Linked DNA regions of Homo sapiens. The protein of the gene in region 1 purifies or fractionates together with the protein of each later gene. This does not show direct contact. Each region holds a gene or a part of one and is shown in the gene's direction. Other genes may lie near its edges. The genes, in order: SLC39A10, GALNT6 and METTL9.

The links.
Region 2: the proteins of SLC39A10 (region 1) and GALNT6 purify together in Homo sapiens (affinity purification with mass spectrometry; 3 studies listed by BioGRID and IntAct, with this or other methods). This does not show direct contact.
Region 3: the proteins of SLC39A10 (region 1) and METTL9 purify together in Homo sapiens (co-immunoprecipitation; 3 studies listed by BioGRID and IntAct, with this or other methods). This does not show direct contact.

The regions. Positions count from the first base shown.
Region 1 is NC_000002.12:195,654,925-195,658,672, forward strand, and holds the start of SLC39A10 (zinc transporter ZIP10 precursor), read left to right. Parts: upstream 1-2,301; 5' UTR 2,302-2,333; coding exon of another isoform or gene 2,334-2,685; intron 2,686-2,741; exon of another isoform or gene 2,742-2,886; coding exon of another isoform or gene 2,887-3,055; intron 3,056-3,748. UniProt on the Homo sapiens protein: Zinc-influx transporter. When associated with SLC39A6, the heterodimer formed by SLC39A10 and SLC39A6 mediates cellular zinc uptake to trigger cells to undergo epithelial-to-mesenchymal transition (EMT).
Region 2 is NC_000012.12:51,356,758-51,360,505, reverse strand, and holds part of GALNT6 (polypeptide N-acetylgalactosaminyltransferase 6), read left to right. Parts: intron 1-1,173; coding exon 1,174-1,374; intron 1,375-2,244; coding exon 2,245-2,376; intron 2,377-3,055; coding exon 3,056-3,157; intron 3,158-3,748. UniProt on the Homo sapiens protein: Catalyzes the initial reaction in O-linked oligosaccharide biosynthesis, the transfer of an N-acetyl-D-galactosamine residue to a serine or threonine residue on the protein receptor. May participate in synthesis of oncofetal fibronectin.
Region 3 is NC_000016.10:21,602,525-21,606,272, forward strand, and holds part of METTL9 (protein-L-histidine N-pros-methyltransferase isoform 1 precursor), read left to right. Parts: intron 1-3,748. UniProt on the Homo sapiens protein: Protein-histidine N-methyltransferase that specifically catalyzes 1-methylhistidine (pros-methylhistidine) methylation of target proteins.

The DNA.
Region 1 (3,748 bases):
TGCTTGAAAATCTGCCCAAATCAGTGTGTATACACTTGAAAGTAAATAAATGTTTGGGTGAGTTTAAAAAGTGTTAGGAGACACAGTCTCTATTTTCAAGTTGCTTACCACATAGTTTTCTATAGGGATGACATTTAAAATATGTAACAATTAGTAAAGAATAGGCACCAACCAAGTAGAATGGGAGTGACTAATAAGAGCTGGGTCCAAAGGGCTCTATCTTAGCCAGGTATTAACCCACTAGTTCCTAAAATGTGGAGGTCTGGGGAATCTTGAGAGGAAGGACTGGCACAGGGGTGAGAAGCATGGGGGGATACCACTCAGAGTTGCAGCTGTTAACCAACTTGCATTGAAGTATTTCAGTATTTGATTAGTTGGTTCAGCCGTACTTGTGTGTACCAGCTGAACATTAGCCTTGTATATCCATAACTAAAAAAGCAGTGTAGGTGCCCTAAAATGTAAGGACTGCAAGCGCTATATCTTATTGATATTTGAAAGAAAGGTTATGTATGTTTTAAGGGTGTTGATAATAATGTGTTCAATAAAATAAGTATGAGCCATAAAATATCAAGCTAATTTGGAAGCTTCTTATGCTTTGCACACAAAGGATGTACTATCATGATTTTATGAACTCTAAGGACTTTAGTTCTAGGATGAACCTTAGAATATATTTAAAACGATCCCCTTAATTTATCAATGAATCTGAGGACCACAGCTATTGTCTCACATTTAGTGGCAATGGTGAGACTTGAAACTAGGACTCAGGCTTAATCTCTTTTCTCCACACCTCAGGACTTCTCCCTTTGTAAGCAGGAGTGAGGTCCATGCTCTGGCTTTCCAAACAAGGAAAAGGGCATATGAGTAGTTCAGTGTTCTGAACTACGTATGGCAATCAGTAGGCATTTATCAAGCACCATTTTCGTTGTTTTGGATGTTTTTTGTAGAGATACAAAACAAAAAATAACCTTCTTTCATGAAGGTATAATATGCAGGTTAGCGGGACTACCTAGCCGTCCATACTGAATGGGTTTGGAAATCCCAACTCTTTTCTCTACCTGCTCTGTGATACCAGGCAAGTTAAAGTCTTGTGTGCCTCAGTTTCCTACCTCACCGTGTTATGGTGATTAAATTAATATATATGTGGAGTACTTGACACACAGTCAAGCCTGCGATTACTGCTGTTCATGGTTTTATTTTCTCTACTAGACACCAGTAAGGCACCCCCAGAACTCGCTGTGTTAAGTAGATTCTGGTTGGATATAGAAACACAGGCACCCCAGGCGGAATGCAGATACGCCTCAACATGTGGATTAAGTAAGAGCCAGGAAGCAGAGTAATGAAGCAAAAATAAGACGTCCAGAGTCACCTTTTAAGAAAATGTGGGTTGGTGGTTGCTTAAGAGGGGAGGAGACAATTTAGATGGGATGTATGGCGTGAGCAAAGGGCAAGAATGAGCACGGTGTAGGCACAAGTCCATGGAACTGCTTGGCTGGATCGGGATTTTTTTGTCATAGAGTGTTAAGAAATAGTCGATCAGTTGAGGAGTAGAGGAGTGAAGACCTTGGAAAGTTGCCAAAAGCCTCGAGAATTTCTCTACATGTGTGACATGTTCTCAGGACTCAACTTTTTCTTTTAGGTTTGGAAGACCCGCAGTAAGTGTGCTTTAGAATTAAATGGGTGGGAAGGGGAGCTAGGCAAAACACCTCGCACTTAGCACTAAATAAAGTTCGCTGTTGCCCTAAGAGACTGAAAAGGTTACTTTAACAAAGGGGGCGGGGTTAACTTAACGTAGATGTTTAACTCGTATACAGATGAACATTCCAGTTGATCACTCTGAAGCTTTTTGGCTAAAGCGTTTGGGTTTAGAGCTTCCATTACTCATTCGCCTTGCCCAAGGCCTCAGCAACCGACGTTCGAAAGCCAGGAGAAAAGGCGAATGATAAAGGGCGCTCCACGCATGCGTTAAGAAGCCGCCCCAACTCCCCCGCGGCGTTCTTTCTTGGAACAAAACTAGCGCGGAGCCACGGAACTCCGCAGTTTGCGTAGACTTGAATTTCCTATTCCTCGGACGATCCATGTGGAATCCGTGAGTAGTGCGACTCCTTTACGCAACTGGCGTTATCCGAAGTGAATAGCTAGGTGGCGCGTGTACGCCCATAGCGTAGCACCCATAGGCGGACGGGGTGCGGCTGCGCAGGGAGCTGAGTGGACCTTGTACGCCGCAAGCGTAGCAGGGTGTCAGACGCGCCGGTTTCTGCGACGCAGTTAGCGCAGTCTGCTTTGGTGAATACACGATTTGGTGCAGCCGGGGTTTGGTACCGAGCGGAGAGGAGATGCACACGGCACTCGAGTGTGAGGTAACTATAAAACCCCGATTTGTTTACATTCCCTCCCCCAGAACCGGCCCCGTGCGCGGCGGAGACTGCGAGTCCCGGGACGGCGTGGGGGTAGAAAGGGAGAACAGAACCGGGGAGTCGGGGCTGGTTCCCTCGGGGATGCGGGCGCTGGGGTTCCCGCAGCTGCTGCAGTCGGCGGCGGCCAGCCGAAGCAGAGCGCGTGGTGGGCAGAGTGTTGGGCGCCGCGGCTCCTCGTGTGCGGTCTGGGCTGCTGCGGGCCGCGGGATCGGGAGCCGGCGGCATCCACTTCGCGTGCGGAGCCTCGCGCCCCCCTCACCTTCCTGTGGAGGTTGGCGGAGCCTCGCGGGCCGCGCCCGGGGTGGGGGAGTGACCGCTGGGCGGGTGGCGGCGGTTAGGGGGCTGCGCGCCGGCCGCGGATGGCGTCGCAGGCGCGGGCGGGCGAGGCTTTGGGGATCTGTAGGCAGGTCTTCGGGGGCTTGGCGACCAGCGCCCCGGTTTTTTCTTCTCCAGTCCTTCTCTCTGGTCTGTAATGGGGCGAGGGGACCCCGGGATGGAGCCTCGGCACCGCTGTTCCGGACCGAGGCTAACGGACGGCGGCGCCTCTGCTCCTACTAGTTTTCTCCCGGACCAACCGAAAAGCCGAGGCGGAGCGCGGGGGTGTGAAGATCTCGGCCTGCTGGGGGTCCCTGGAGCTGAGGGTGAGGGTGGGGCCGGGTCGGTGGGACAGGCCGGGTGGGCCGGAGGTGGCGCGGCCGCACGGCTTTGTTCCGGAAAGCCCTTAGGTGGAGAGCGATGTGGGGCGCGGCAGGGGGATCGCGTAGAGGAACCTTCGCGCACCGCCTCTCCGGGTCTGGGAATCTGCTGAACTCCTTGCCTCTCCTGGGGTCCCTCGAACGCCCCAGCTAAGAAGGGCGGGGGCCTTGCCAGGGCGCGAGCAACATGACGTTCAAGGTCTTCCTGTGGCTTCTGTAAAGAAATGTTCACGTGGGAGCCTGTCCACATGGGCTGTACTAAGGATCTGGCACGAGGAAGAAATATCACTGCAGAACCTGAAGCCCTCCGTTGGAAGGGTCGTTCACTCGAGTACCTATTCTAAGTAACAGTGACACAAAACACATGTTAGAAAAAAACAAAAAGTATGGTAGGTTATACTGTTTTTTAAAAGAAACTTTTATTTATGCCTTTTGCTGTTAAGTCCTCTAATTTTACATTGGAACTGAGTCATTCTTGGAGCAAAACTAGAATAGGTTTGTATTTGTTTTCTTTTTGGATGTGTATCTAAATTGTACATAATTAAGAAAAAGCAAGTAATGGAAAAGCTGGAGATGTAGAACTTAGTTCCTTCTAACTTAGTATGCAATTGAAAGCCTCAAGTCAAGACTCCTGTGTAT
Region 2 (3,748 bases), on another chromosome or scaffold:
GCACAACTTCTCAGAGGCAAGGAATAATAGGGGTAATGAGGACTGGACATCTGGTGACTGGGGACTCTTTTGCGATGTCTGTGGGAAAGGGTTAGGGTGAAGATAGAAACAGGTTAGTATGTTCACAACTAGGGCTAGAAAAAAAAAACAGATGAGTAACCAGTCATCATCCTTTTTCTGGAAAAATCAGGCTCCCCTTCCCAGTTCAAAGGACACATGCCCTGGTAACCTTTGAAGTTTCCCTACCTATGTACAATAAGCCCTTCATAACAGTCAGAGAAGATGGTGGCCCCAACTCTGGTGGACCCCAGAACTCTGAGAGATTCCAGGAATTAGGCAAATCAGGATTAGGTCAGGAAGCAAGGATTGCCTCTCCATGAAACCTACACAAATCTCCATGCCATGGAAAAGTAATTAGTAAGTAGATGAGCTCATTTATGAAGTCACCTCTCACGGTGCCTGATGCATATTAAGCACGTAATTGATGCCTGCTGTTACTATAACGATTATGTATTTCTGTTGCTGCCACACTAAAATGAATAACAACATACTTTCCCACCTAAAACCCAAAAGAAGAAACCAGTGGGAGGGATGTCTTCAGCCAGCCCACCAGCATAGAAAAGGGTCACCTGCCAGTCACCCCAACTCCCAGCGGCCCAATCCTAGGCTCCTCCATGAGCCTCTGACCTCTGTTCACCTTCCTAGGCAGCCAGTGTGCTAAGGGCCCAAGTGACTACCACTAGCCACCTAGCAGCCAACTATCCTTGCTATTAATTAACAGACTGATGCTCTGGTTTTTATCACCTGAGGGAGCTGATAAACTCACATTTCCAGGTCAAAAAGCCAAGTGATCAGAGCTCAGAGTAGGTATACAGGCACAGGTAACAAAAATTAACCAGCAGGCTTTTCCCTAAAGTGGGCCCTGGTAAACACAGGACCCTGCAGTCTCCCTGTGCTTAAGTCAGAGTGAACCAACATCAGAAAGCCTGGGATCGTGTAGTCATGGCCTAGGAAGAAGCCTGGTCGGTATCCTTTTTCCCAGGGAGAGAGAGCAGCATTTGCCCAAGTCCTTGGACCTGGGGTCTGGTGCTCTGGGAATAGAATAGAGCTGCTTATGGGGAGACTGTCTCACCTAGCCCACTGAAGGCCTCATCCTGTCTCCTCTTACATCAGGTGTGGCAGTGTGGGGGCCAGCTGGAGATCATCCCCTGCTCTGTCGTAGGCCATGTGTTCCGGACCAAGAGCCCCCACACCTTCCCCAAGGGCACTAGTGTCATTGCTCGCAATCAAGTGCGCCTGGCAGAGGTCTGGATGGACAGCTACAAGAAGATTTTCTATAGGAGAAATCTGCAGGCAGCAAAGATGGCCCAAGAGGTGAGAGGAAATGGTTCTCGGAGAGGTTTAGATGAAGAGAAGTACGGCCCCCAGACCCTGTTCATGGGCCTAATGGCTGGGACCCACCTCATCTCTACCATCTGGCGCCTCCCTTCACCCTCAGGGACCTGTGAGCTAGAGCCCAGGAGAAGGCCACAAGGCACATAGGTTTCAAAAGCTAGAGAATGTTGTCCCTACGCATAGAGTCTCTGCATCCCTTTGGAGGGGAAGGGAGGGAAAGGAGATTTGGAGGAAAAGCCTCTTACGGAGGCTTTGGAGGCTTTGGAGGAATGGCTCTGAGAGCCTCGGCACTGGGGAGTGGGACATAATTGTCTGGGGAGTCACAGGAGATGGACCGATAAGCAGGGGACTCCAAAGCTAAGGCGGGGTTTTTGGGATTGGATGTGAGGGCTGGGCCAGTATCTTTAACAGGTCCTGAGTGGGAATGAACATGAGAGACAGTAGCCCCAGGCGCTCCATGCTATCTGCACTACTTCAGCCCAGACAGGAAGGTCAAAGACTGGTGGAACTGGCTGGGTGTGGTGGCTCACGCCTGTAATCCCAGCACTTAGGGAGGCCGAGGCGGGCAGATCACCTAAGGTGAGGGGTTTGAGACCAGCCTGGCCAACATGGTGAAACCTCATCTCTACTAAAAATACAAAAATTAATTGGGCGTGGTGGTGCGCGACTGTAGTCCCAGCTACTCAGGAGGCTGAGGCAGGTGAATCGCTTGAACCCAGGAGGGGAAGGTTGCAGTGAGCCGAGATTGCACCACTGCACTCCAGCCTGGGCAACAGAGTGAGACTCCCTCTTAAAAAAAAAAAAAAAAACTGGTGGAACTGATCCTTAGGGGGCTGGCTTGATTGACAGAAATCCTTCGGTGACATTTCGGAACGACTGCAGCTGAGGGAACAACTGCACTGTCACAACTTTTCCTGGTACCTGCACAATGTCTACCCAGAGATGTTTGTTCCTGACCTGACGCCCACCTTCTATGGTGCCGTAAGTCTTGAGAACCAACCTGCCTGCCCATCACCACAGCACCCCTTGGAGAAGTTCAAGACCACTGACCCCACAGATGGATGACAAACAAGAATTGAGTTTTGCCCTGCACCCTCCTTTATCCAGGAGGAGGACTGAGAGGCCACGTTGGGGCTTCTAGAGATAGCAAAAAACCTTATAAAGGGCAAAACAACCCACAAGCAGTGGTCCTGAAACATTAGCATGCATCAGAATCACCAGGAAGGCACGGTAAAACGCTAGGGCCCATCCCCAGAGTTCCTGATTCAGAAGGACTCAGGGGAGGTCTGAAAACTTGCATTTCTCACGAGTCTCCAGGTGATGCTGATGGTCCAGGGCTCACATTTGAGAACCACTGCTTATAAGGAAACTCCCACGTGCTGAGGGCTTCTTCCAGGGACCTGGCATCCTGGGAGGTTCCCTGCCTGCCCCACAGAGGGGTTCAGTCCTGCCCTTTCCAGCCTCTGGGGCTCTGCAGCTCACTTTGCTGTTAGCTCCAGGCATGTGGGTTAACGCACAGAGGAGAGAAATGACGGGGGAAATCCAGCCATGCAAATTTGTTGCAGTTGACTGGAATTTGTTCCAGTGGGGCCCCATACCACACATGAGGAACCTCCTGACTGTGCCATCCTGCTTCCCCTCTCTGCTCACCCTTCTGCAGATCAAGAACCTCGGCACCAACCAATGCCTGGATGTGGGTGAGAACAACCGCGGGGGGAAGCCCCTCATCATGTACTCCTGCCACGGCCTTGGCGGCAACCAGGTATGCAGCCCACCCATCTCCGGAGCATCTCCTCTCCTCACCGGCTCCTTTTCTCTACCCTAAAGAGTCCTTTCCTGAGGACTGGGAGGGAGGAGATACCATCCCTGCCCTCAGGAAGCTTCCAGTCGGAGGAGAAGGCATAACACACACAAGGTCTGAATAAGGGACATCCGGAGAGAACGAGGCATCGGTGCTGGGTGTGAGAAGGGGATGGGAGGGAGGGTTGTTCATCAGAGGAGGCTTGAGGAGGCTAGCTGCTGGGGGATATTTAGGGGTGAGGGTGGAAAATTTTCCAGCACATCCCATCACCTGCACTCAACTTCTATCTTCAATGCATCCTCTGCCCAGAAGCTACCACTCTGATCCTACCACCTTCCAGTGACCCCAAAACTAGGTGCCCAGCACTAGTAAGTGAGAGGCACTGAAAACAGAGCCAGAGTGGGGAAAGGAGTGGTGTGGGTCACTGAACAAGCCCGCTGGCATATGTAGGTGAAGACAGTCATTCTACAGCAGTTTCCTGTACCACTGGCCTGCAAGATGATTTCCAGTGGTGCACTGGAGAACATTTTTTATTTTAATAGTAATGTATTA
Region 3 (3,748 bases), on another chromosome or scaffold:
CAGACTTATTTTACAGCCTATGAAATAAGAATAGTTTTATATTTTTAAATGGTTACCAAGAAAATATCAAAATAACATTTTGTAATACATGAAGTTTCATTTATGGAATTCAAATTTATTTCAGTGTCTACAAATAAAGTGTTTTTTTTTTGAGATGGAGTCTCGCTTCGTCACCCAGGCTGGAGCGCAGTGGCCCAATTTTGGTTCACTGCAACCTCTGCCTCCCAGGTTCAAGCAATTCTGATGTCTCAGCCTCCCGAGTAGCTGGGATTACAGGTGAACACCACCACGCCCAGATAATTTTTGTAGTTTTCAGTAGAGATGGGGTTTCACTATGTTGGTTAGGCTGGTCTCAAACTCCTGACCTCAAGTGATCCTTCTTCCTGGGCCTCCCAAAGTGCTGGGATTACAGGCGTGAGGTACTACACCCAGCCCACAAATAAAGTTTTATTGAAAGAGAACTACCACATTCATTTACCTGTGGTCTATGAGCTCCCTGGCTACAATAGCAGCATATTTGCTACTGTATGGCCTGCAAGCCTAAAACATTTACTACGTGGCTTCTTACAGAATAAAGACTTTTTCCAAGAGAAATTCCCAGCTTCCTTAACAAACAGCTTTTTTTTTTTTTTGGAGACAGGGTCTCACTGTGTCACCCAGGCTGGAGTGTAGTGGCACAATCTCAGCTCACTGCATCCTCGACCTCCTGGGTTCAAGCGGTTCTCATGCCTCAGCCTCTCCATAGCTGGGATTACAGGCACGTGCCAGCACACCTGGTTAATTTTTGTAGTTTTAGTAGAGACAGGGCTTCACCATGTTGGCCAGGCTGGTCTTGAACTCCTGGCCTCAAGTGATCTTCCCACATCGGCTTCCCAAAGTGCTGGAATTACAGGAGTGAGCCACTGCAACCAGCCTCCAACAGCATATTCTTAATCACAGGTTGCAGGGTGGGTAGATTGACTCACTGGGAAGAAATAGAGGCAGGCAGTGAGAAACTAGTAGATATTGTCACTTTGCAATGTTGGCAGACTCAGAATTTAAAAAGACAACAACAAAAAACTTAGGATCTATTCTTTTTGATGCATTGCACCTAGTGCTTAAAGTTAATGCAACTATTATGGAGCTACTGAAACTTTGAAAGGACCCTTAGGCCCCAGGTTCTTGGTAATAATAGCGGTTCAGTAGCTTCTCAATTGATGGAGTGAAAAAATTGTTATAGAACTCGCTGAACCAAACCACAACGATTTCTCCGGGTGACATACTGCAAGGTTTTTTAAAAGCACAGATAACATTCAATATCTGGAATTATTAAGTTGTAACTTAAAATTGCAAGTATGTGTATATTTTTGTGACTTATTTTTTCACTTTCTTATATAAGCTCAGAACTGCGCTATGCCACAAGTGATGAAGAATTCAAGAAAGAATTAAAATCCTTTTTTTTCCCCCAAATGAAAAAATACTTGGACAGCATAGCCAGAGCCAAACACTGTGCTAAAGGACAGAGTGTTTCCTGTCCCTTTACCCCTCACTTACCCTGTGGAGGCAGACTGGAGTCAGGCATGAGTTAACAATGCTTCAAGGATAGTCAGCCAGCTAAGCCGGACAGACACTGATGGATTGGCGTCCTTCTCTGAACTGCCTTCGAGAGTCTGGAGGCCTTTGCAGCTGAATACCAAAGAGACTTCAGAAAGGATTTCTTTGCTTCCTCATAATCTGTGTTGAAACCCCAAGTGTTTGCTTCAGTTTCACAGAACACTAGAATCTCTTTCTTGTGCTGGATATACCAGGAGTCTTTATGTTTCTCTTTGAAGGTGCCCTAGAAGACCCTAATAGCTTCCAGTAAAAAGCTCTGTTGTGTAGACCCTCTGAAGCTTTGTTAAAATTTTAGGATTATCCTGTCCTATGGGGAGTGAGTATTTAGTATTTGCAATGAGGATTGCCAGTAATTGGTTATTAAATCAAAGCTGAAGCCATTTAATCTGTTTTAATTGATTCCCCTCATGGATATGAGGGTGCCTGTCACTGTACACATTGAAATCTCACATAAAGAGGTTATTGGGTTGAGTTTATATTGTTTGTGGGAAAATGGTGAATGGTCTGAATATTTACGCCTATGCTGTGCTTAAATGCAAGGTGTGCATGGTGAAATGTCTGGACTGAGTTGACTGCATTGTAAAATCTTAGAATGTGAATTTTGAATCCTTAGCTGTCAAGCTCTGTTGATGGAGTTGGTCTGGCCAACTTAGAAAAGATTCTGTGTTCATAGATCCTGAGCAGTGGAGCTTTTCTGATTGTTTTTGGTAGCCCTGAATGCCTTGGGTCTTTGATTACCCATTTCTTTTGAGAATGGCTGGATGCCTAGACCTACAGTTTGGTTTTTAGGCATTCCCTTGAACTGTACTTCTCCTCTGACCAGCCCTTGCCTTGGAGAGAAAGGGGAAGGAAATATGAAGAGCTACTGGCCTTCTATTGTGTGCCAGGCACTTCAAATATATTATCCCCAGTAGTCCACATAGAACTCTTGGAGGTTGGTGGTATCATCCGCACTTTACATACAGAAAAGTGAGGGTGAGAGAGAGAAGAGACTTGCTCACCAGCACAGAGTTAATGGATGATAGAGTTGGGCTTTGCACCCAGCTTTGGTTTCAAGGCAACACATTTTCTGCTGCTTTATGATGCCCCTCCTGGTAAACCTTGTGTTGTCTGAGGGGTGGTAAAAATAGGCTTGCCTTCTTTTTTTTTTTTTTTTTTTTTTTTTTTTTTTTTTTTTTTGAGAAACAAGTTCTTACTCTGTCACCCAAGTTGGAATGCAGTGGCCTGATCATATCTCACTGCAGCCTCAAACTCCTGGCCTCAGTACATCCTCCTGCCTCGGCCTCCTGAGTAGCTTCTAAATCTTTTGTAGAGGCAGGGTCTTGCCATGTTGTTCAGGCTGGTCTCAAACTCCTGGCCTCAAGCAGTCCTCCTGCCTCAGTCTCCCAAAGTGCTGGGATTACAGGCGTGAGCCACTGCTCCTGGCCTAGGCTTGCCTTCTGAATAGGAAACTGCCCTCATTCTAGTGAGGCCTCTGTGTAGACACTGAAGTTAGGTAGCTGTGTGCACAATACTTGTTGAAGATTTTGTAGTTTGTGAATTAGATGAGAATAAGACAGCTGCTTGAAGTTCTGGCCTTTATCTGGTTTGTGCATGCTTTTTTTAAGGCTTAAAGTTGAAAAAAGATTCTTACATGTATTGTCATTTTTTCCTGACATCAGCCATTCTCTAATTTTCCATCACCAAGTGGGTGTTTAATTGTTCAATCCTGTTCTGACATTAACTACCTGGAGTTAGGGTCACGCTTTACAGAGTTAAGAGCTCAGTCCCACAAGACTGCCCTCACTTCAGAGGCCAGCTGGAAGTCCTGGGTTCCCAGGCTGCCAGTGCTTTTGTCCACCTTGAACAAATTTGGGAGTTCCCACAACTCTACCTTCACCCTACCCCACCCCACCCCCTAATTTCCTATAATAGAATGACTCATAGAACTTAGGAAAACACAGGTGCGGTGGCTCACGCCTGTAATCCCGGCACTATGGGAGGCTGAGGTGGGTGGATCACGAGGTCAGGAGATCAAGACCATCCCGGCTAACAGGGTGAAACCTGGTCTCTACTAAAAATACAAAAAAATTAGCTGGGCGTGGTGGCACGTGCCTGTAATCCCAGCTACTGGGGAGGCTGAGGCAGGAGAATCGCTTGAACCGTGGAGGCGGAG